Homo sapiens: one gene and its partners. The protein of the gene in region 1 purifies or fractionates together with the protein of each later gene. This does not show direct contact. Each region holds a gene or a part of one and is shown in the gene's direction. Other genes may lie near its edges. The genes, in order: FGD1, HMGN5, PITPNM1, ESYT2, DAZAP1 and MICALL2.

The links.
Region 2: the proteins of FGD1 (region 1) and HMGN5 purify together in Homo sapiens (affinity purification with mass spectrometry; one large-scale study listed by BioGRID and IntAct). This does not show direct contact.
Region 3: the proteins of FGD1 (region 1) and PITPNM1 purify together in Homo sapiens (affinity purification with mass spectrometry; one large-scale study listed by BioGRID and IntAct). This does not show direct contact.
Region 4: the proteins of FGD1 (region 1) and ESYT2 purify together in Homo sapiens (affinity purification with mass spectrometry, with the first as the bait; one large-scale study listed by BioGRID). This does not show direct contact.
Region 5: the proteins of FGD1 (region 1) and DAZAP1 purify together in Homo sapiens (affinity purification with mass spectrometry; one large-scale study listed by BioGRID and IntAct). This does not show direct contact.
Region 6: the proteins of FGD1 (region 1) and MICALL2 purify together in Homo sapiens (affinity purification with mass spectrometry; one large-scale study listed by BioGRID and IntAct). This does not show direct contact.

Annotation. Positions count from the first base shown.
Region 1 is NC_000023.11:54,454,735-54,458,234, reverse strand, and holds part of FGD1 (FYVE, RhoGEF and PH domain-containing protein 1), read left to right. Parts: intron 1-1,667; coding exon 1,668-1,726; intron 1,727-1,868; coding exon 1,869-2,015; intron 2,016-2,450; coding exon 2,451-2,543; intron 2,544-2,707; coding exon 2,708-2,787; intron 2,788-3,500. UniProt on the Homo sapiens protein: Activates CDC42, a member of the Ras-like family of Rho- and Rac proteins, by exchanging bound GDP for free GTP. Plays a role in regulating the actin cytoskeleton and cell shape.
Region 2 is NC_000023.11:81,114,914-81,118,413, reverse strand, and holds part of HMGN5 (high mobility group nucleosome-binding domain-containing protein 5), read left to right. Parts: intron 1-2,072; coding exon 2,073-2,210; intron 2,211-3,183; coding exon 3,184-3,500. UniProt on the Homo sapiens protein: Preferentially binds to euchromatin and modulates cellular transcription by counteracting linker histone-mediated chromatin compaction.
Region 3 is NC_000011.10:67,491,268-67,495,363, reverse strand, and holds the end of PITPNM1 (membrane-associated phosphatidylinositol transfer protein 1), read left to right. Parts: intron 1-138; coding exon 139-287; intron 288-407; coding exon 408-518; intron 519-1,003; coding exon 1,004-1,120; intron 1,121-1,293; coding exon 1,294-1,442; intron 1,443-1,526; coding exon 1,527-1,676; intron 1,677-1,770; coding exon 1,771-1,954; intron 1,955-2,301; coding exon 2,302-2,430; intron 2,431-3,067; coding exon 3,068-3,331; 3' UTR 3,332-3,596; downstream 3,597-4,096. UniProt on the Homo sapiens protein: Catalyzes the transfer of phosphatidylinositol (PI) between membranes. Binds PI, phosphatidylcholine (PC) and phosphatidic acid (PA) with the binding affinity order of PI > PA > PC. Regulates RHOA activity, and plays a role in cytoskeleton remodeling.
Region 4 is NC_000007.14:158,819,510-158,823,009, reverse strand, and holds part of ESYT2 (extended synaptotagmin-2), read left to right. Parts: intron 1-3,500. UniProt on the Homo sapiens protein: Tethers the endoplasmic reticulum to the cell membrane and promotes the formation of appositions between the endoplasmic reticulum and the cell membrane. Binds glycerophospholipids in a barrel-like domain and may play a role in cellular lipid transport.
Region 5 is NC_000019.10:1,406,324-1,410,385, forward strand, and holds the start of DAZAP1 (DAZ-associated protein 1), read left to right. Parts: upstream 1-1,262; 5' UTR 1,263-1,450; coding exon 1,451-1,479; intron 1,480-1,561; exon of another isoform or gene 1,562-3,298; coding exon of another isoform or gene 3,299-3,756; intron 3,757-4,062. UniProt on the Homo sapiens protein: RNA-binding protein, which may be required during spermatogenesis.
Region 6 is NC_000007.14:1,438,971-1,442,470, reverse strand, and holds part of MICALL2 (MICAL-like protein 2), read left to right. Parts: coding exon 1-279; exon of another isoform or gene 280-1,308; coding exon of another isoform or gene 1,309-1,786; coding exon 1,787-1,880; intron 1,881-2,385; coding exon 2,386-2,546; intron 2,547-3,475; coding exon 3,476-3,500. UniProt on the Homo sapiens protein: Effector of small Rab GTPases which is involved in junctional complexes assembly through the regulation of cell adhesion molecules transport to the plasma membrane and actin cytoskeleton reorganization.

The DNA of each region.
Region 1 (3,500 bases):
CTAGGTCTTTACCCTGCAGGCACAGGGGAGCCATTGACAGATTTGAGCAGAGGAGTGACAGTAAACTGTGTGAGAAAGCTCCTTCTGGCAGCTAGGATGGAATAAGGGTTGGAGATTGGAGCCCGGCCCCTGAAAGGCATGTGGATGCCTGAGCTGGGACAGGGGCCATAGATCTCCGTGAGCACCAAAACTTGGTCATGAAGAGAGAGCCTCTTAGGAAAACACGACTTGGTTGGCCAGCCATATGGACCTCCTTCAGAAGCACCTCTGCTCCTCTAGCACAGGCTGATCTGAGTGGGGAGATCCAGCACATACAGAATGGGGTACACAAAGACTGTGGCCAGGCCTTAAGCATGGGTGGGATTTATTAGTGTGTGGAGATGTACAGGGACTCATTTCAGCTTTTTCTTTTTTTTTTTTTGATGATACCTGGTCACTATAGGAAATATGGAAATTACAGAAAAAGATGAAAGAAGTAGGAAAAAAATCCCCTGTTATCTGAGCCCCCAGAGAATAAGCACAATGAACATTGTGACATAAATTCTTCCTGGTGTTTTTTAGACATGTATACTTGTAAAAGTAAGATCATTCTATATAAACATGTTTGTATCCTTTTCTTAAAACACCCTGAGCATTTCCCAGATTATTAAAAGACCTACATGAGGATCATTTGTAAAGGTTGTTTAATGTTCCATTATATGAAGACACCATAATGTATTTAACTGAACCCCTACAGTTGGCCATTTTTTTTGGCAGGGAAGAGGTACAGGTGAAGGTGTGCTCCCCTACAGATGGACATTTTTGTTTCCCACTTGGAACTGTTGTAAATACCAATATGACAAAAATGTGTTTGTGTATAGAATGTGTATTTTCCTAGAATAGATACCCAGAATCAGAATCATTGAGACAAAGAACAGGATCATCTCATTGTTTCTTTATATGGCTTTTTCTGATTATAAAAGTAATACATGTTCTTTGTCAAAAATACGGAAAATACAGAAAAACCTAAAGAAGACAATAAAAACCACCCACGGCCCCACCAACCAGAGACAACATGGGTATGCTTCCTTCTGGTTACATATGTAACTATTATTGTTATTATTAATGGTAATAATAATCTTGGCAAGCTTGCATTTTTTTATTGGCTGCCAACTACTCCATCTATTGTGATTCTGGCATTGTGACATTGGACAACTTCTGATTTTAAATGATGTTGCTGTGGACATCTTTGAGGGTGGAGCTTTCTGAGATGGGAGGGTGTGATCAGGCCAGGAGGAGGTATTCAGGGAGGAAAGAAGCCCCGAGGCCGGGTGCGGTGGCTCACGCCTGTAATCCCAGCACTTTGGGAGGCTGAGGTGGGTGGTTCACAAGGTCAGGAGTTCGAGACCAGCCTGGCCAACATAGTGAAGCCCCGTCTCTACTAAAAATACAAAAATTAGCCAGGCATGGTGGCACGTGCCTGTAGTCCCAGCTACTTGGGAGGCTGAGGCAGGAGAATCGCTTGAACCCGGGAGGCAGAGGTTGTGGTGAGCCGTGATCATGCCGCTGCACTCCAGCCTGGGCAACAGAGTGAGACTCCGTCTCAAAAAAAAAAAACAAAAAACAAAGCCCCGGAAAGGCTCCTCTCTGCTAGTCCCCCATCTGACCTCACCCCTCTATGCCTGTAGAGTCTCTGGAGCTGATCGCCACAGCAGCAGAGCACTCGAATGCTGCCATCCGCAAAATGGTGAGTGGCCCTTCTAGCCCCTGCCCTTCCTTGGCCACCCACCTGTGGTGTCTCCATCCTGGAGTGGGGGTGTCGTGACTTGTGGGCATCTGACAGGAGGCTGGCACCCCAACCGTGCCTTTTGTTCCCTGTCTTTTGCCAGGAGCGAATGCATAAGCTGCTGAAGGTATATGAGCTGTTAGGGGGCGAGGAGGACATTGTCAGCCCCACCAAAGAGCTCATAAAAGAAGGCCACATCCTTAAGCTGTCAGCAAAGAATGGGACCACTCAAGACCGATACCTCATACTAGTAAGTGCCAGGCATGGAATTGTGGGTGGGTCATGCCCCTCCCAACACACACACACATAGTGACCTGGTACTCACTCAAAGACTATACCTCCTTTCATTCCTGAAAGAGGAAAAAAAAGAAAAACAGACTATACCTCCTGCTAGTCATTCTCTCCTCTAGTAACGAATTGTATTTTCACTACCTAGCTAGGATTTTTTTTCTCCACTTTACAGATGAGGCAAATAAGCCTTGCAGAGAAGTGACTTGCCCGAGGTTCCCCACTAGGAAGTGTCTTCCATGCCTAGGCTCTTTCCTTGTGACCCCTGTGCCCAATTTGGGCTGTCTTTTCTCCATCTATTGCCTACAGTCCTTGGCAGTAAAGCTTCAGGGCAAGGAGCTGGGCCACATCCCCACTAGGCCCTCTGCACATACATCCCAAACTTTTTCCTTCCTAGTTCAACGACCGCCTCCTTTACTGCGTGCCCAGGCTGCGGCTCCTTGGCCAGAAGTTTAGCGTGCGGGCACGCATTGATGTAGATGGCATGGAGGTAAGCATCCAAGAGGTGGGAAATGGGAACTTGGAGTGGGGCATTGGTGTTGGGAGGAACAAAGATGCTGGCTTTGACCCCGAGTCTGTGTGTGTATGTGTGCAGAGGGCTAGGGCCCTGTGGAGTTCAGTGGCCTCACCATGCCCCTTTCTGCCTCCATTCAGCTAAAGGAGAGCTCCAACCTCAATCTGCCTCGAACCTTCCTGGTGTCAGGAAAGCAGCGCTCCCTCGAGCTCCAGGCCAGGTACTTATCCTTGCCTATGCCTTTCCTCCAGCGCCTACCTCCCTTTTGTTCAGATATGCTGAGGCATTCCAGGCCCAGAGATTGTTCCAGAGAAAGGATGGGCACCTTTCCCCAAAGATGCAGGCTTGCTCTTCAGCGGTGGGGGTGATCCCTAAGGGTTAGACACCATTTAGATTCAGGGTGAGTACTTCACGATATGGGGAAAGGTGGCACTCCTGCCAGGGAAACCTTTTGGAAAATGAATAAGCTCTCCCTAATTAAACCAAGAATTTCTTCTGGTGGATTTTGTTAGAGGAGAGAGAAGAATGGGATGTGAAACCCAACATGAATAATACCACCACAAATAGTTTATTGTAGATTCACAGATCTAAGAGAAATAACAATCAAATGCAGTACTTGGTCCATGACAGAAGCCTGGTTTGGGAAAAAGAGCCCTAAAAGACATTTGTGGGACAATAAGAGAAAATGTGGATGTAAAGTGAACATTAGATATTGAGAAATTATTGCTGTCTTAGGTGTGATAATGTTATGGTGGTTATGCAGGAGAATGGCCTTGTTTTGCAGCAGTGCATGCTGAGGGCTTAGTGTCACAATGTCTGTTAATTACTTTAAAATGGTTCAGCACCCAAAAAATACATATGTAACCATACATACACATTTGCACACATATACATACATACACATATACAGTCATGCACTGTATAAAACATTTT
Region 2 (3,500 bases), about 27 Mb from region 1:
ATATTGAAATAAATTTGCTTTTTTTTTCAAAAATAATTTTTGAAATGGCATACAGCTGATCATTTTACTTTGCTTATATTTTGTTCAGTTAGTAATATATTATATTCTATCATATGATACATGTAAACCCCTTGGGTGGGGATTATTTGTTCTGTTTTGTGATTGTCCACAGTGTTTTGACATTTTCACTGGGTAGAGACAAAACAATTTCAGTTGGATAGGCCCATTAAATGTACATGCCTTTGCTATCATATAGTGACAATACTGTTTCCCTGGGAAAACAAAAGGTGAAAACAGTAGTAACCCCAAAGTTGTGCTTTGTAATAAAAGTAGTAACTAACATTTGATAATATTTTACAGTTGGCAAAGTATATAAGATTATATATAATTATATATATAATATATGTAAGATGTATTTGCATATGTTAATTTTAAATGGACACAATTGATTTTGTATGGACTTATATACTCTGGTGTTATGGCTAAAGGCATGTAGAAATAGATATAATCTCAATATTTAGTTTACTGCTAATTGCTTAATACATAAGAATATTGATTGAATTCCTGAAATCATAAAAGGTTAAAGCTATGAGAAACATTAGAGAGCATCTAATCCTATCACTTTGTAGTTGAAGAAAGTATAAACTGTCATTATGTTCATAAATGAAATCCTTTATTAAAAAATATTGCTAAACTTAGGGAAATTGAAGTTTTAGTAATAATTGATATATTTAATGGTGACAAAAGAAAAGAAGGTTTTTTTTTCTGCATTTTACTTTTCAAGTCCACTATTATATAAGGTTAAATATTCAACTTACTAGTTTTTAAAACAGTAAATACAGCATATTTTCTTTTAAAAAGAAAAGTAAGGCCAGACGTGGTGGCTTACACCTGTAATCTGAGTACTCTGGAAGGTTGAGATGGGCAGATTGCTTGAACGTAGGAGTTTGAGACCAGCCTGGGCAACATAGAAAATCACCATCACCACAGAAAATACAAAAATTAGCCGGGCATGCCTGTAGTCCCAGCTGCTTGGGAGGCTGTTGTGGGAGGATTGCTTGAGCCTGGGAGGAGGAGGTTGCAGTGAGCAGAGATTGCCTCACTCCAGCCTGGGCGACAGAGGGAGTCCCTGTCTCAAAAAAAAAAAAAAAAACGGAAAAAAAAGAAAAGAAAAGAAAAATAGGGCTAGACTAAAACATATACTATATAACCATAGACTTTACCCTCCTTGGCTCTGTTTCTCATGTGTTAAAAGAGTAATAACTTATATCTAAATTACAAATTACAGTTTCTAAAGCATTTTTTTCATGTGTTTTCTCATTTTCTCCTTGTAACATCCCCGTGAGGTGGGTGGTATTACTCTCTTTTTATATATGAAAATAACAGCCTCAAAGATACTTATGCCTTTGCTCAAGATCACATCACATAAGTGGCAGATCTAGAATTCAAACACAGGTTTTCCGGCCCCTCAATCCAGTGGTCTTTCTATTACATACACAGGTAGGCAAAAATTTTCTTGGTGAAGTCGTCATGAATCAGGGCATTCCAAACTTGTAGATACAAAGATTGAAACACTTACATCACCATAAGGTCTTTTAAAAATATATCTAAATTGTTGTTCTCACTAACAGCATTTCTCTTAATTATTACCAATGGAGGCGTAACGATCAACAAAACCCTGTTCCTTATTAATTAGACTTGACAGAAATAAACTGACCCTCTCTAGACAGAGGGAATTAATTGATCAGTCTAACCTGATGCCAGCAGTTTGTCCTTGGCAGCAACTAGTCAGCATTCTAACTGGTTGCCTCTCATCTATATCACTCAACTTAAAAGGAAATTTATTTTGTTTATATCAAGGGAACATTGTTCATTTTTAATCCTGCTTTAGGCTTACAATGAAATTTACAATGAAGATATTATATGATAATTTTGTTGATACCAGATTTATATGTGATACTTTAAAGAGTTTGCATAAATTATTACAACAGCTGGTAAAATAATTGTGACCATTTAATCAACACAGCAGTTAAATTGTATATTTACTTTCATTGTTTTATATTGCTTGGCAGAAAATGAAGACAAAAAGTGATATGATGGAAGAAAACATAGATACAAGTGCCCAAGCAGTTGCTGAAACCAAGCAAGAAGCAGTTGTTGAAGAAGACTACAATGAAAATGCTAAAAATGGAGAAGCCAAAATTACAGAGGTATTTTCTAATGTTAACAGTTTTATCTATTTGAAAGTTTAACAATGGGTACAACTGAAAGAAATCCTATTTGCCTTTTAGTTTATAAGTTGGAAAAAAATTAAGTGAGCAGTGGTTCTATAGTATAATGGTATCTAAGAGGAAAATAAAATTAACTTAAAATATGAGAATTTAGAGGGACCAGTAGTGCGAGCAGTGGCTTAGCATTGCTGTTACTAGAACAATGCCAATGATTATGACTTAGTACTAACATAACAACCTTCTTATTAAATACAAGCCAATCTTTATTCCTTTTATCAGCACACAGGCTATTTGTAAATCCCTTTTCCAGAATTTATGATTCTTTTATTTCCTCTGTGGATGGCAAAGCAAATCATTATATAAATGTTTTTAATCTTATTTTGCATATTTAATGCATACAACATTTTTAGGTATTGTAATAAAACACTGAAAATGGGTGTAGCCACCAAATCTATAAACCAAACATATGCAAATATGGAAAATCTTTTGTAAGTTATCTTATAATATCTGGTACAGTACTTTTCAAGTAATTTTTACATAAAAAATATCATTATTATAGAAACAAAATATGTTATTTTCCAAGGACTATATTTTGTTTACATGCATAGTCCTCATTAAGAATTGCTGATACAGAATAAATATATGTCATCCTTTAAGTATTTACTTTGTGCTTCTTCATATTTGAAATAAAAAGTATTTATAAGTGTTTCTGTATTTATTGTTTCAAATATCTATTTGTAGATATTTCCGTGGACATATTTTAGTTAATCTCATTTCTTAGAATGTTTTCTCATAATGTGATATTTAGCAGGCTTCTTTCACAGGAAAATTACTTTCTTTAAATGAAGTATTAGTCTTTCTGTGAAATAGATATAATCCAGTGTAAATATTTAGGGGAAATGGTTCTAAATTTACAGACAGAATCTTGTTTTTCTTTTCACTATACTTACAGGCACCAGCTTCTGAAAAAGAAATTGTGGAAGTAAAAGAAGAAAATATTGAAGATGCCACAGAAAAGGGAGGAGAAAAGAAAGAAGCAGTGGCAGCAGAAGTAAAAAATGAAGAAGAAGATCAGAAAGAAGATGAAGAAGATCAAAACGAAGAGAAAGGGGAAGCTGGAAAAGAAGACAAAGATGAAAAAGGGGAAGAAGATGGAAAAGAGGATAAAAATGGAAATGAGAAAGGAGAAGATGCAAAAGAGAAAGAAGATGGAAAAAAAGGTGAAGACGGAAAAGGAAATGGAGAAGATGGAAAAGAGAAAGGAGAAGA
Region 3 (4,096 bases), on another chromosome or scaffold:
AAACCCTTTCCCCCAGCACACAGCCTGGACTTGGCAAAGAGCAGGCTGGGTGAAAAGGGGGGAGGGAAGAGCACCCAGCGCCCAGGCAGATGGGTGTGGGGCAGGAGGCCATCCTGACTCGCTGCCATGGCCGCGCAGTCCTGGAGCGCTGGTGGGGGACCAAGCGGATCGACTACTCGCTGTACTGCCCCGAGGCGCTCACCGCCTTTCCCACCGTCACGCTGCCCCACCTCTTCCACGCCAGCTACTGGGAGTCCGCCGACGTGGTGGCGTTCATCCTGCGCCAGGTGGGCCTGGGAATATGGAATGGGAGATGAGAATGGGACGGGGATGGGCTGCTTTGGGCCGGGGGAGGGGCAGCCCTCCCTCCCCTAAGAGACAGAGGCCTCGCCCCCTGTCCCGTGCAGGTGATCGAGAAGGAGCGGCCACAGCTGGCGGAATGCGAGGAGCCGTCCATCTACAGCCCGGCCTTCCCCAGGGAGAAGTGGCAGCGAAAACGCACGCAGGTCAAGATCCGGGTAGGTGCCCTGCCCCTCGCCCCCTCGCCCACTCGCCCACTCTCGCCCACTCACCAGAGAGGCCCCGCCCCTCCCCCCAGCACCCCCCTCCTCGGGTCCTAGCCGATCCAACTCTCTCCCAGTCCTGCCCCGCCCCTGGGGTCCTGGCCCCACCTCATTGCCCCAGCCCCGCCCCTGGGAACCGCTGGTCTCCCCGCCCTCTGCGGGAAGTTTGGGTCTAGGGTCTGGATCTGCGCTGGTCCCCACCTCGCCTCATCCTCTGCATCCCGTCCTGTCACAGCTCTGCCCCTGGAGGCGCGGCCCACACACAGGCTCTCAGGCCGGGGTCCACAAAAGTGCGCCCCCCGGGCTTGCCCTTTTCCCTCAATGCCCCGCCGCCTCTAGGCCCCCACCCCGGTGTTTGCGTGTGGATCCTCACCCGCTCCCCCTCCCCAAGCATCCCCATCCTTTGCTGGCCGCGGACTCACGCCCTCTCCTCCCTCTAGAACGTCACTTCCAACCACCGGGCGAGCGACACGGTGGTGTGCGAGGGCCGCCCCCAGGTGCTAAGCGGGCGCTTCATGTACGGGCCCCTGGACGTCGTCACGCTCACTGGAGAGAAGGTCAGGACCCAGAGGCCCTGTCGCCTGGTCCCATGGCCCCATCTCCTGTCCTCGGAACAGCTCCTGGTCCCTGGTGGTTGTGCCCCTAGACCCACCCATCCCCGACGACAGCCCCGCCTCTGCCCACCTCCACGCAGGGCCCCCATTTACCTCCCGCCCCTTCTCCCCTCCAGGTGGATGTCTACATCATGACGCAGCCGCTGTCGGGCAAGTGGATCCACTTTGGCACCGAAGTCACCAATAGCTCGGGCCGCCTCACCTTCCCAGTTCCCCCAGAACGCGCGCTGGGCATTGGTGTCTACCCCGTGCGCATGGTGGTCAGGTGAGCGCGGCTGGCCGGGCCTCTGCGGGAGGGCTCCGCCAGGCCTCGCCCCGCGCCACTCACGCCCCGCCCCGTGGGCCGCAGGGGCGACCACACCTATGCCGAATGCTGCCTGACTGTGGTGGCCCGCGGCACGGAGGCTGTGGTCTTCAGCATCGACGGCTCCTTCACCGCCAGCGTCTCCATCATGGGCAGCGACCCCAAGGTGCGAGCTGGCGCCGTGGACGTGGTCAGGTAGGAGTTGCCACTGCCACCACCACCCATTTCACCGGGGTGACCGGCCCCTCACCCCTGGCCAGCGGAGCTGACCGCTGCCCCCGCCCCACAGGCACTGGCAGGACTCCGGCTACCTGATCGTGTATGTCACAGGCCGGCCGGATATGCAGAAGCACCGCGTGGTGGCATGGCTGTCGCAGCACAACTTCCCCCACGGCGTCGTCTCCTTCTGCGACGGCCTCACCCACGACCCACTACGCCAGAAGGCAATGTTTCTGCAGAGCCTGGTGCAGGAGGTGCGGCGGCTGGGGGAGGCTCCGGGTCCTGACCCCGCCCCCGCTCCCCCTTACCCTCCACCCCCGGATCGGCGGAGGCCCATCTGTTCCCAACTGGATCGGCCCGGGCCCTGCCTGACTGCAGCGGCCCGCTACGGTCCTGCTCCCCTAGTTTGAGGGGCCCCGTGTACTTAGGGGCAACTAGGGAGATGCAGCTGGTCCCGCCCCTGTCCCCGTGGGACTGGGACCTGTCTTCGCCTCCGTCTGCCTGGACCCACCCCCAGAACAATCTGGGGAAGCCCAACAGGCCCCGCCCCCAGCTGCACGGCTCCACCCCTGGGGCGGCTGATTGGCATCTCCCGCCACAGGTAGAACTGAACATCGTGGCCGGTTATGGGTCTCCCAAAGATGTGGCTGTATACGCGGCGCTGGGGCTGTCCCCGAGCCAGACCTACATCGTGGGCCGTGCCGTGCGGAAGCTACAGGCGCAGTGCCAGGTGAGGCCCAAGTGAAGGCCAGGAACAGGACCCCACCAGGGGGCAGGGCCCTCAGTCCCAGGCCTTGGGAACCACGGACTCTGGGGAAGATGTGAGAAGGCCTAACCGGCCTCCAGGGAACCTGGGATCCTCCGAGGACAAGGGCCATGAGCAGCTTGAGCTGCCAGCTGCCAGGCAAGCCAGAGGGGACAGCCCACACTGGAAAGTGCTCAAGACCCTAGGCGCTGGTTCCACTCGGCCATGGCTTTCCACTGTGACCTTTCTGAGCCTCAGCTTCCCATCTGTAAATGGAAATGATCATGGCACTGCCCATGTCAGCTTATGAAGATCACATCAACAGGCACAGGGCTGGGCACAAAGCAAGTGCTGGCTAAACATTGGCTGCTGTTATTTTTCCTCTAAGACCCCATTTTCCAGATGAGGAGACTGAGGCCCAGAGAAGGGCAGAGCTAGGAGCACAGCCAAGGTGCCCTGGCTCCCAGCCTGGGGTCCTATCTATTGAGAAGGCTTCAGCTCAGGCTGTGCCAAGCCTGCCACCAGTCCCCCAGCCTGCCTCAGGTGCCTCTGGAGGACCGTGGAGGGCAGCGTGTGGGCCCTTGGCCAGCACCCCCTCATCGCTGCCTACCTCTGCCCACAGTTCCTGTCAGACGGCTATGTGGCCCACCTGGGCCAGCTGGAAGCGGGCTCGCACTCGCATGCCTCCTCGGGACCCCCGAGAGCTGCCTTGGGCAAGAGCAGCTATGGTGTGGCTGCCCCCGTGGACTTCCTGCGCAAACAGAGCCAGCTGCTTCGCTCGAGGGGCCCCAGCCAGGCGGAGCGTGAGGGCCCGGGAACACCACCCACCACCCTGGCACGGGGCAAAGCACGGAGCATCAGCCTGAAGCTGGACAGCGAGGAGTGAGGCCCACACCAGCCTGGACCTGGGTTATTTATTGACACACCCAAGGGGCCCGAGGGGCTGCGTGTGGGAGGCTGGGGACCCAGACTTTTGGCCCCAGCGCTGGCCCCCCCAGCCCCACACCCTATATCTCCGTGTGCTCCTCGGTGTTACTTCCCTTTCATATGAGGGGACCCAGCGCCGGGGGGAGGGAGGAGGGCGTGGGCATGGGCGCAGAGGCTTTTCCAGTGTGTATAAATCCATGAAAATAAACGCCACCTGCACCCCACCCACTCACCCCATGCCTGGCATCACAGGGCAGCCAGCCCAGTTTCCAGTTCAACAGGGGACACTGATGTGCACAGAGAGGCCAACACACACCCAGGGCCATCCAGCTCACAGGCAGGGTCAGGATGGGGGCCTGGGCCTCAAAAGGTCGCACGAAACCCACGCCCAGGGCCATCCATGTCACAGGCAGGTCAGGATGGGGGCCTGGGCCTCAAAAGGTCTCACGAAGCGCTCGGCCCTCTCCTCTTTCTGGACAGTCAGCCCACCCCAGCCCAACCCGGCTCACCTCAGCCCCAGCGTAGCTTCTCATGGAAACCCTGCCCCCAGACACCGAGGCCAGGAGACCATGGGATCCGAGGCTGGAGTGGGAGGGCAGCACCAGGAGACTACCTCCCTCAGGTGCCCAGCTACCTAGCTTGTACCCACTTCATCTCCCCCTTAAGACTGTGGGCTCCTGGGGCGCCCCAGCCCTGGCCAGCGAGAGACACTTCCTTGGTGAAA
Region 4 (3,500 bases), on another chromosome or scaffold:
GAATTTCTTTTAATAATGGATGAAAAGGTGGTCAGTTATAGTGCAAAGTGAGGTACACCTTTGCTTACGGAATTCTAGCTAAAACTGTAAAAGTTTTTAAGGAATATTGTTCTAACTTAAGTTTGGGGGTATTTACATTTTAAAGGAGAGTTAATGAAAGGGTTAGGTATATGAATTTTAAAAACTAGGTAAATATTTTTAACTTAAACCTAATAGTACTTTATTTTTTGAGCTGGAGTCTCACTGTGTTACCCCAGGCTGGCCTCGAACTCCTAGGCTTGAGGGATCCTCCTGCCTCAGCCTCCTGAGTGGCTGGGACTACAGGTGTGAATCATTGTACCCAGCTCTAATATTACTTTATTTTTATTTATTTTTTAATTTTATATATTTGAACATTTTTTATACTTGTAGTAGAGCCGAGGTCTTGCTATGTTGCCCAGGCTGGTCTCAAACTCCTGGGCTCAAGTGATCCTCCTATCTCAGCACTTCTGAAGTGCTCTGATTACAGGTGTGAGCCACCACCTCGGGCCTCTAATAGTCCCTTAAACACGGATGCTATACTATATTGGCTTAAACAAATATTAATTTTAATTGCATAGCAATAGAAATCATGCTTCAAAAATATAAAAAACCGAAATCTGTTTTTCCGTGAGTTATTCCAAAGTCTTAACTGTGATTCAAGGTATCAGTATATAATCATCACATATGTTTGAGTAGTTTAGCTTATGGATTGGTTTGTTTCATACTGGGTACATTCTATCAGAACATAATTTTATCATGTATTATAGAATACATTGTGGTCTTTTGTCGTCTCTTGCATTTTGTTATGGTTTGGCAAGTCATTATCTTTTTTAGTTTTCATGACGATTCTGTCTCAGAGGAATTTTATTTCTTCATTTAGAGATGTAAGGACCCACTCTATGCAGATGATTGTGCCAACACAAGTGTAAGAAATCATCCTGTCTTCATATTTACACTCTGCTCAGAGTAGTTAGAAGAAGCACCTGGGAGGCGGGCTGTGGTGATGGCTCCAGTGTCACGGTGGCTCAGAAGAAAGGAGCAGGGAGGGTTTGATGGTAACTAAGGGGGCGTGTTATAAATTTACGGACATGCTAGGGAAGAGATTCTACTCTTATTGAAGGGCATGGCCTTACGTTCAGTGGCAACAGCGCGAGCGGCCGTGTGGAGGACAGTTGCAAAGGCAGATTTCTGGGCCGTCTCATCTGGAGGGAAATGCATGGAAGTTCTGATAGGGTTGTAACTCCTCCACCTGGTAGAAGGCTGCACTCAGCTTGGGACTTACTCTGGGCCCAGCAGTGAGGAAAGGAAGTGGTCCCACTAGACCCCAGCCCAGGTCCCCATGACCTGGGAGGAGTAGAAGTGCTCCTTCTGGATGGCTGGCCCAGGCCCTCAGGGCAGTTCTGATTTACAGGATGCAGGGACGTGGCTGGGATTACTGTCGTGCTTTTAAGACAGAGTTTGGACATGATGGGGGTGAAAGTAGTGATGTGTTCAGATCTAAGCTTGTGAAATCAGAAAAGGAAAGCTACTGTGTAATGCAGTATACTTCTATTCTTGCTGTAGCTACCAGAAAACTCACAGCCAAAATTATTGCTGGATTGTTGGGCCCTGTACTACTGTAATAGCCGGGAGTACCCATCACACTTTTCTTCAAATAGGCGATCTTCTTTTACTCTCAATGATCTTATTGTTCCTTGAACACTGAGTCACCTCCTGTTCTTTTGGAATTGGGTGGGGCATAGTTCTTACACAGATGGTGAATATGTTAGTAGTTGTCTTTTGCATGGGATCATTTTTTCCATAAAGCATGTTTTATTTATGGAGGTTTTTCCAGAGTCTTTCTTCCTGTCACTAATTTCTTTTCTTCATTTATTTTTCTTAACTGTTTTTAAAGTTCTATAATGTTTGTTAAAGCAAACTATTTATTTTTGTGAATTTTTTCCTGGATCGCATTTTAAGAAACTAGTCCAATTTATATGTAAGCATTAAAAATGAGTCTTGATGAATTTATGGACATTTATTAGGCATTTGCTATGTTCTAGGTACTGTGTTAGGTGCTAGTGACACAAAATGTGTGTAAGACAAGGCCTTAAACTCAGAAATTTACCAGCCGGCAATAACACAGCAAATCTGTTTAATCCTAGCATTAGTCATAGTATGAATTGGTGGGTTTTTTTCAATTATTTTTATTTATTTATTTTTTGACACAAGGTTTTGCTCTGTTGCCCAGACTGGAGTGCAGTGGCACAATCATGGCTCACTGCAGCCTCAACCTACTGGGCTCAGTCACCCCTCCCGCCTCAGCCTCCCCAGTAGCTTGGGCTACAGGCATGCGCCACCACGTCTCACTAATTTTTAAAATTTTTTGTAGAAGGGAGGTTTCTTACCCAGGCTGGTCTTGAACTCCTGGGCTCAAGCGATCCTCCTGCCTCTACTTCCCAAAGATCTGGGAGGGAATACAGGCGTGAGCCACTGCACCTGGCTGTTGTTATTTTTTTATCTGATAAAAGTATTATTTTTATTGTGTTCAACATGTTTTGAAATATGTATACATTGTAGAATGTGCTAAATCAAGCTAATTAACAAATGCATTATGTCACGGGCTTACCATTTTTTGTGGTGGAACACTAGAAAATCTACTCTTAGTGACTTTTTCAAGAATATATTATATTGTTGCTAACTATAGTTACAGTGTTGTACAATAGATCTCTTGAACTCATTCCTTGTAATTGAAATGTTTTATCCATTTGTTAATATCTCTCTAGACTCTCCCCCATTCTTTTAGTAAAAATAATACATGTTCACTTTTTTAAAATCCAAGAAAAAATATATTTAAAAGATCATCCATAATACCAAACCATCCATAATGGTAGTTGCTAGTAAAGTATAAATTGAATGGGGTTTAATGGATTACGGCAGTGTCTAGATGAAAGTATCAGTACAAAGTAAGAAGCACATCCCACGTGCACTTGTGTATTGCAGCAGCAGTGTCCTTTCGGATAACAGCTTCAGTTTTGTGCTTGGTGATTGCGTGCTGGAATTAGTGATAACCACACCAACAGCAGATGTGGAAATACTAATATGATGGTTTTCATTATGCTTTCTTTATTACTTGTAAAATTGTCATTGAAACTGAGTTTCTTTTTTTTAATTTGTTCAGTTACACGGTGAAGTCCCCCTTTATCTTTCTATATTTAATGAACATGTAGTTGTATTTTTCTTCATTTCTTATGTTATGGCTAGACAGGTTTCAAAAACATTTTTTTCTGATTTAAAGAAGAAAGTATGCTCATTGAAGAATAAGCTTTGGAGGAGAATAAAGAAGAAAAACGTTACCTGCAATTCTACTAACTAGTGATAACATTACATTGGCAACATTTCCGTGGATTTTGTTAATGTTTTAATGATATGTTTGGATATATGGGTGTGTATAGTATCCTCCTTTCTTAAATGCTATATTATGGATAGTATGTTATTCT
Region 5 (4,062 bases), on another chromosome or scaffold:
ATTTCTCCGGCCTTAGCTTCCCGAGTAGCTGGGATTACAGGCGCCCACCACCACGCCCGGCTAATTTTCTTTTGTATTTTTAGTAGAGACGGGGTTTCACTATATATGTTGGCTAGGCTGGTCTCGATCTCCTGACCTAAATTGATCCTCGGCCTCCCAAAGTGTTGGGATTATAGGCGTGCGCCACCTCACCCGGCCTTGTTCCTTGTATTTATTTAATTCTGTGATGATGAATAAACCAAACGATCAGGCTGTCAATGTGCTGTGAGATTAAGGAGAAAAGCAGTAGGCAGCACGTACCCGGTTTTACAAAACCCTGCGGGTCACCTGTTTACTACCGTCAGCCTAGACCGGTTTTTCCACCTCCTTCTGCTGACATTGGAGGACGGGTATCATTCTTTTTGGGGGGTCGTCGTGTGCACTGCAGGGTGCTGAGCGGCATGTCTGGTCTGGACCCACTCGATGCCAGCAGCACCCCGCACTCAAGTTGTGACAACCAAAACCGTGTTTTCAGACATTGCCAAGTTATCCCCTAGGGGGCAAAGTCACCCAGAAGAAGAACCACTGATGTATGCAATTAACAGATGCAACTAAAACAGTATTTGGCTATTAATAGTAATAGCACTTGGGGGGGGGGTCAATAATATCTTTTCATAGTCATTGAATTTAGTTAATTGTTTTGATTTGATTCCAGTTCAGCCCCGAACTGGGTGACCTTGGCCAAGTGACTCAGCCTCTCGGACCCTCGGGATCCTCTTCTGTGAAATGCGGACAGGGGAAGGAGCCTCGCGCGGGACGCTCACGTGCCGTTCCCGCTCCGTCCGCCCGCCTGGGGTGCGGGCGGGTACACTCCCACTCCCCGCAGCGCCCCACGCGGCTCCACCGCTTCCGAGTGAAGAGTTAAAGAGGAAGCGGCAGCCGCGCCTGCGCCCACAGTGCCTAGCCCGGAGCGCCGGTCTCGCAAGCGCGCACGCGCACGCAAGCCCGCACGCGCGCGCACGCACGCACGTGGCTCGGCCCGCGCGCATCCTCCCCTTGCAGGGGCGGGGCCAGCGCAGGGACTCCATTTCCCAGCGTGCCCCGCGGCAACGCCAGGAGCCTCCGAGGAGAAAGGAAAACGCGCGACGGCCCCGACTGCGGCGGCGCGAAATCCGCCTCAGGGACGCACGCACAGACGGAGTACCCCTGGACCCGCCCCCGGAGACCCCGTGCGGGAGCGCGCCCGGGCGTGCGCAGGGGCGGCGGCGCGGCGGCGCGGGGACGCGCGGTGACCGTTGGCGCCGAGGGGAGGAGGCAGCCGCCGCCGCCGCCGCCGCCGCCGCCGCCGCCGCCGCCGCCGTTGCGCAGATCCGGGCCGCGGCTGTGGGGAGGGCGACGGAGCGGGTGACCTTCCGGAGGCGGGAGCGAGCGAGGAGGCCCGGGAGCGCCGAGCGTCGCCGCCGCCGCCGCCATGAACAACTCGGGCGCCGACGAGATCGGGTGAGGACGAGCGGCGCGGGCCTGCGTCTCCGCCCCGAGCCCGGCCCGCCGCTCCCCGCCGCCCGGCCTCAGACGCCGCCCCCCGGGGCCGCCCCGTCAAGGTCACGCCGGCCGGGGGCGGACTCGGGACCCGGACTCGCCGCGGCTTCGCGCCGGGGGCCCTGGACGGGTGCCCGGGGTCTGGGGGGGTCCTGGCGCCCCCGCCGCCGCTTCCCGGCTTCCCGTCCTGGGGGATCCTGAAGGAGAGCCTGAGGGGTCCGGGGGGCCCCGCCGCCGCCTCCAGACTTCCTGGTCGGGGGAACCCCGAACGGCAACCTGGGGGGGTGTCCTGGGGCGCCCGTGCCGCCGCTTCCCGACTGCGCGTCCTGAGGGACCCCGAATGGGAGCCAGAGGGGTTCAGGGGCCCCCGCCGCCGCTTCCTGGTTGTGGCGGCCCCGAACGGGAACTTGGGGGGGTCTGGAGCGTCCCCGTTGCCGCCTGTAGGGCTTCCTGGCCTGGGGGACCCCGAATGAGAACCTGAGGGAGTCTGCGGGGAGTCCAGGGCGCCGTCGCCGCCGCCTCCCGGCTTCCTGGCCAGGGGGACCCCAAACTGTGGCGTGGGGGGTGGTCCGGGGCGCCCCCAGCGCGCGCCCAAACTTGGCGGGCGGCGCACGTGGCGAGCCGAGGCGAGGGTTCCGGTTCTGCCACCGCCCAACCTATCCCACTCGGGGCTCCGGGCTCCCCGCTCCCATCCCACCCCCCCAAAGTGGTAAGGTCGGGAGGGGTTCGCAAACCCAGGGCCCAGGGGGCTCGGGTCAGCCGGGGCCTGCTGTGTTTACGTTGCCTCGGCGCCTCCCCGCCGGGGGTGGGCTTGAGCTGCGGAAGGGAGAGTCAGCGCTTCCGAGGCGGCGACGGGCCCGCGGATCTTTGCTGCGCCGAGGCGTCCCCTCCTATAGGAGCCTGACCTGCTCCGGACCCCGCGGGGCCGGGAAACCTCATTTCGCTGTGCCCCAGGGCTCGGCGCCATTCTTTGGTAGGAGCGGCTCCTGCCGCAGCGACGTCGTTTTAGAGTTGCATTCTTCCGGCAAAACAGTCTGGGTTGGGTTTCCTAGTGGTCTGGTGTAAATTTCTCGGTGCCCTTAGCTTTGAGCAGCGCCCTGTGTTCTCAGCGCTGGGCTTGGCTAGTGCGGGAGCGGTTGCTGCTAGAGGGTTGCCTTGGCAGGCGCCTCTCGCACCAGCTACAGGTCACACTTGTGGATGGGAAATGCCTTTTGTGGGCTCTCCCCCTCCCCAGACAAAACAAAAGAGCACCTTCCGTTGGAGAACCAGGATGAAAGCACTTAGCCCCTGCCTAGCCCGTGCTGTGAGTCCTCTCCAGGCACTTTGACTTGGCAGGGTCCGTGTGCCTGTGTGAGGGACATTGCAGGGATGGGCCTGAGCAGGGAGTCCACCGGCCATGGGGGATGGAGCCATCGACTTTGGGGTGAGGCAGGGAAAGGGCTCCCAGATGGGGTACCTGGATTAGGTCCATTCAAGCCGCGGGTGAACGTGGGCCCGCTCCACCCAAGCCGTGGCTGTGAGGAGGCTGGAGAGAGGTGAGGGCTCCTGTCCCCTCCCTGCATGGACACCCTTGGGAAGTGGGGCAGCTGGGGTCCCAGCCTGGGTCTGGAGGGGTCCCACCCACAGCACAAATAGGCTCGCAGGCCACCCGGACGCCACGGGCTGCGTGGAGGAGAACTGGAGTGCATGGACCCTGCTCTCCTCCCCGGCTGCCAGGAGTGTCCACTGCTTTCTAAGTCAGACTCCTTGGGCAAGAAGTGTTGCCACAGCCGCCCGTCGCATGGGAGACCGGCTTCCATTCTATGCGGAGTCCACGGTCTGCTCTGATCTTGCTGTGTGGAGTTGTTGTGTGCGTGAAATGCTTGTGACCCTGCGAAGCGCCCTCCTGGCAAGTCCCCTGCAGGTGCGGTGGGTGCCATGCAGGAGGGTGCTGAGCTTGGATGGAAGCAGGCCCTCTCTGCGGCAGATGGCGGCTCTCAGGACGCCATGGGTCTGCGGTGTCCCTTACCCACTGGGGGGGCTCGGCAGCCTGAGGAGCTCCCTCTTCCTGATGCAGAGCCCTCACTGCTCACTGCCATGGAGGAGGCAGGAGATCCCGCCGGACCCCGCTTGGAGGGCTGGGCCTGGAGCATGCATGGGTGCGGGGTCAACGCCTCAGGAGACTTGGAGCTTGGGAGCCCCCTGTTCTGGGACACTTGTGGCCGTCCAGCTGCTGCCCTGGGAATCCACACCTGGAAGGTGGGTTAGGGAGCCATCCTTGGGGGAAGCTCTGCTTTTGAGTCTGAGAAGTCGTCCCAAGTTTTGAGGGTCCCTGTGCTGGCTTAGAAGTCCATGTAAAGCTTGATGGGGGATGAAAGTCAGCTGAGGCCTGCCGGTGATAACGGATGCCTTACACACACCGACTTCCAGTCAGCTTGAGGGGGGCTTCATGCAGGAGGAAGCGCATACGTGTGGTGGGGTGTGGGGAGTCCCTCTCTGGATCCTGGTGGGTTTGGCACGCGGACCCTACATGGTGGATGTGATGGACAGTGTCCTCCTTTGGGA
Region 6 (3,500 bases), on another chromosome or scaffold:
CTGCCGCTGTTCCCAGTTCTCAGCCCAAAACTGAAGCACCACAAGCAAGTCCCTTAGCCAAGCCGTTACAGTCCTCGTCTCCCCGGGTGCTTGGCCTCCCTTCGAGGATGGAACCGCCAGCCCCGCTGAGCACGAGCAGTACCTCTCAGGCATCCGCGTTGCCCCCGGCAGGCAGGAGGAACTTGGCGGAATCCTCAGGGGTCGGCAGGGTGGGTGCTGGCTCCAGGCCGAAGCCAGAGGCCCCGATGGCAAAGGGTAAAAGCACCACCTTAACGCAGGGTGAGTAAGGGGCTGGGAGGCAGGAGGCCCCGGGGGCCCGCAGCTCTGGGACTCTCCCCTGGCCGCACTCTGCAGTGTGTGCGGTTTCATCATCAGCCCCGCCCGCCTTCCTCTCCGTCTCATCTCTGTCCTCCGTGACACCTGCTCGCAGCCTCCTGGGGTCCTGGTGCGCTCTCTGTGTGGTGGCTGCAAATGTCCTCAGGGCTATGCTGTTTGCCGGCACCCAGCCCACCCCATCCGCACGTCCTGCAGGTGCCTGCAGCCCAGCCCTGCAGCGTCCCGCTCAGCTCGGTCTGGCAGTTACATCCTGTGGCTAGCAGTGGCCTGGCTTGGCCGTGGTCTGTGGGGCCTCCTGTTCTCCCGTGGTGTTTTGCGCTTCCTGCCTGTCGCTTTGACAACGTCGCGCTGTTGCTGTGGCACCCTGTGTCACCACATACCGGAGATGGTGCCCTATGCCCCGTCCCCCCTGTGGTGTCCCGGTGACGGTGCCCTATGCCCCGTCCCCTCCGCTGGTGTCCCAGTATGCCCTGTCCCCCTGGTGGTGTCCAGGTGAGAGCGCCCTGTGCTCCGTCCCCCCCGGTGGTGGTCTGGTGACGATGCCCTATGACCTGAGGGCTCTGGTGCCTCCTAGGCTGGGAGCTCTTCCTGGGGGCTCCCTGGACCACACAGTCCTGTTTTATGGCCTCACGTGTTTTCGGGAACAGGGAGCGAGCTTTCTTCTAGGCAACTGGCTGTCACCCACCAGGGGTTAGCCCCCTGGGTGATCATGGCCAGGCTGGGCAGGACGTGGGCTTAGGGCTTGTGAGGCCAACCCTGTGCCAGCTGGGAGGCCCAGGGCACTGGGATGGCCAGGCTACGCAGTGAGCTGTCAGCTGTGCCAGGACAGACCCCAGGCTCCTGGCGGCCCTGCTTTGATGCACGGCTCTGTCTCCCAACCTGGGGGCAGCCGAGTCCCCCCGCCTCGCCCCACTGCAGGAAACTGGCTGTCCCTGCCACCTGGGTGTGTGTAGAAAAAAGCTAGAGGTTCCCATGGCTTTATCGAGCTGGGCTCAGGGAACAAGCTGGGCTGCAAAGGGTTTTTCCAGATCCTTCTCTTTGGCTGAGTTCTCATTGTTAAAGCCACGCGCTGGATCCTGCAGGACCCAGGAGCCAAGAAAGCCTGCAGACGGGCAGCCGTGGCTCAGGTGTTCCCCTTGCACAGGTGGACAGAGGATCAGGGTCCACGGGGCTCACCCTGCCACGTCCCCACCCATTCGGCAGAAGGGGAAGTTGAGGCCCAGAGGCAGGGAGAGCTTCCCCCAGGGACACACAGCACAGGAGAGCCAGCTGGGAGCCCCTCCCCTGACTCCCTGCCCGGTGCTCCTGATGCCCCCCGGCCGGCTGGCTGTGGGGGTGTCTGAGGGTGGAGTGGCTATGGGAAGATGGCAGGGGGAGGCACAGCCACCCTTGCAGACACCCCATTCCCAGCACTCCTTCCTCACACCCAGACCCCTTGCCTCCCACCCAGACATGAGCACCAGCCTCCAGGAAGGCCAGGAGGACGGGCCGGCAGGATGGAGAGCGAATCTGAAGCCCGTGGACAGGAGAAGCCCAGCTGAGAGGTTAGGGATGGGTGGGGCTGGCCCAGGGCCTGGTACACCATAGGTGCTTAATAAATGCAGTGAGTATGTAATCGACCGATTGACACGCCTATCCAGGGATAGACGCACCTCCCTGTGAGTAGCAGAGGCCAGGTCACCCCTGCCTGAGGGACATGGGGGCCGCTGTCCCTGGTTTGGGGGCAGCGTTGCGTGTCTCACCTGGGCATGGCAGCACCCGTGTGGGTTCACGCACCATGCCTGCAGCTGGGGTGGAGTCTCCCCATGTGTGGGTCCCGTGGGGCCCGGAGCTCACGCCTGGAATCTGCTTCGCACCACGGCAGGTAGCGATGGACACGTGTGTTTGCAGGAGGGTCCCAGCAGGTGTAGTCAGTGGGCTGGGAGGTGGCATTTGCTCAGAAGGCCACCTGCTCCCTCCGGCTGGTCTGCATATGGCCTGGGAGCCCCTCCAGGTGGGCCAGGCCCTGGGGCTGGTGGTTCGGGTTCCGACCTCATGCCTTCTGCCCAGGACTCTGAAGCCCAAGGAACCACGGGCCCTGGCAGAGCCGAGGGCGGGGGAGGCCCCCAGGAAGGTCTCAGGCAGCTTTGCTGGGAGTGTCCACATCACCCTGACCCCCGTGAGGCCTGACAGGACCCCACGCCCAGCCAGCCCAGGACCCAGCCTCCCAGGTACTCCTGGACGGGACCCAGGGGCCCCCGGGTTGCCTAGCTGGCCCTCCCCCTTGGGTGGGGGCCCCGGGACTGGACCTGTAGTGCCACCTCCTGGGGTGTGCGGAGAGGCGCTCCGGTCAGCCAGAGAAGCTGGTAGTCCTGGGCAGGCTTGTGTGTACATGTGTGCATGTGTGTGATGCATGTGTGCATGTGTTCATGTATGTGATGCCTGTATCCATGCGTGATGCATGTGTGCGCATGTGTACATCTGTGTTCATGTGTGTGATGCATGTGCACGTGATGCATGTCCATGTGTCTGTTCATGTATGTGATGTGTGATGCATGTGTATTCATGTGTACATCAGTGTTCATGCGTGTGATGCATGTGTACATGTGTGATGCGTGTCCATGTGTCTGTGTTCGTGTATGTGATGCATGTGTGCCCACACGTGATGCATGTGTCCATGTGTACATCTGTGTTCATGTGCGATGCATGTGTGTCCATGTGTACATCTGTGTGATGCATGTGTGTGCAACCGTGTTCATGTATGTGGTGCATGTACCCATGTGTGGATCTGTTTCATGAATGTGATGCATGTGTGTCCACGTGTGCACCCGTGTTCGTGTGTGATGCGTGTGTGTGCACACACATCTCTGTGTGTATTCCTAGCACTCATAGCTGCCCTGGATCCATATCCAGCTCTCGTGCCACTTCCTGTGTGACCTTGAGCAGCCAGCAGCCCCGTGGGTTAGCCCCCTGGGGAGACATGGCCAGGTTGGGCAGGACGTGGGTGTAGGGCTTGTGATGCCAACCCTGTGCCAGTCGGGAGGCCCAGGGCATGGGGATGGCCGGGCTACCCAGCGAGCTGTTGGCTGTGCTGGGACAGACCCCAGGCTCCCAGTGGCCCTGCTCTGAAGCGTGGCTCTGTCTCCCCACCTGGGGGCAGCCAGGTCCCCCTCCCCACCCCGCCG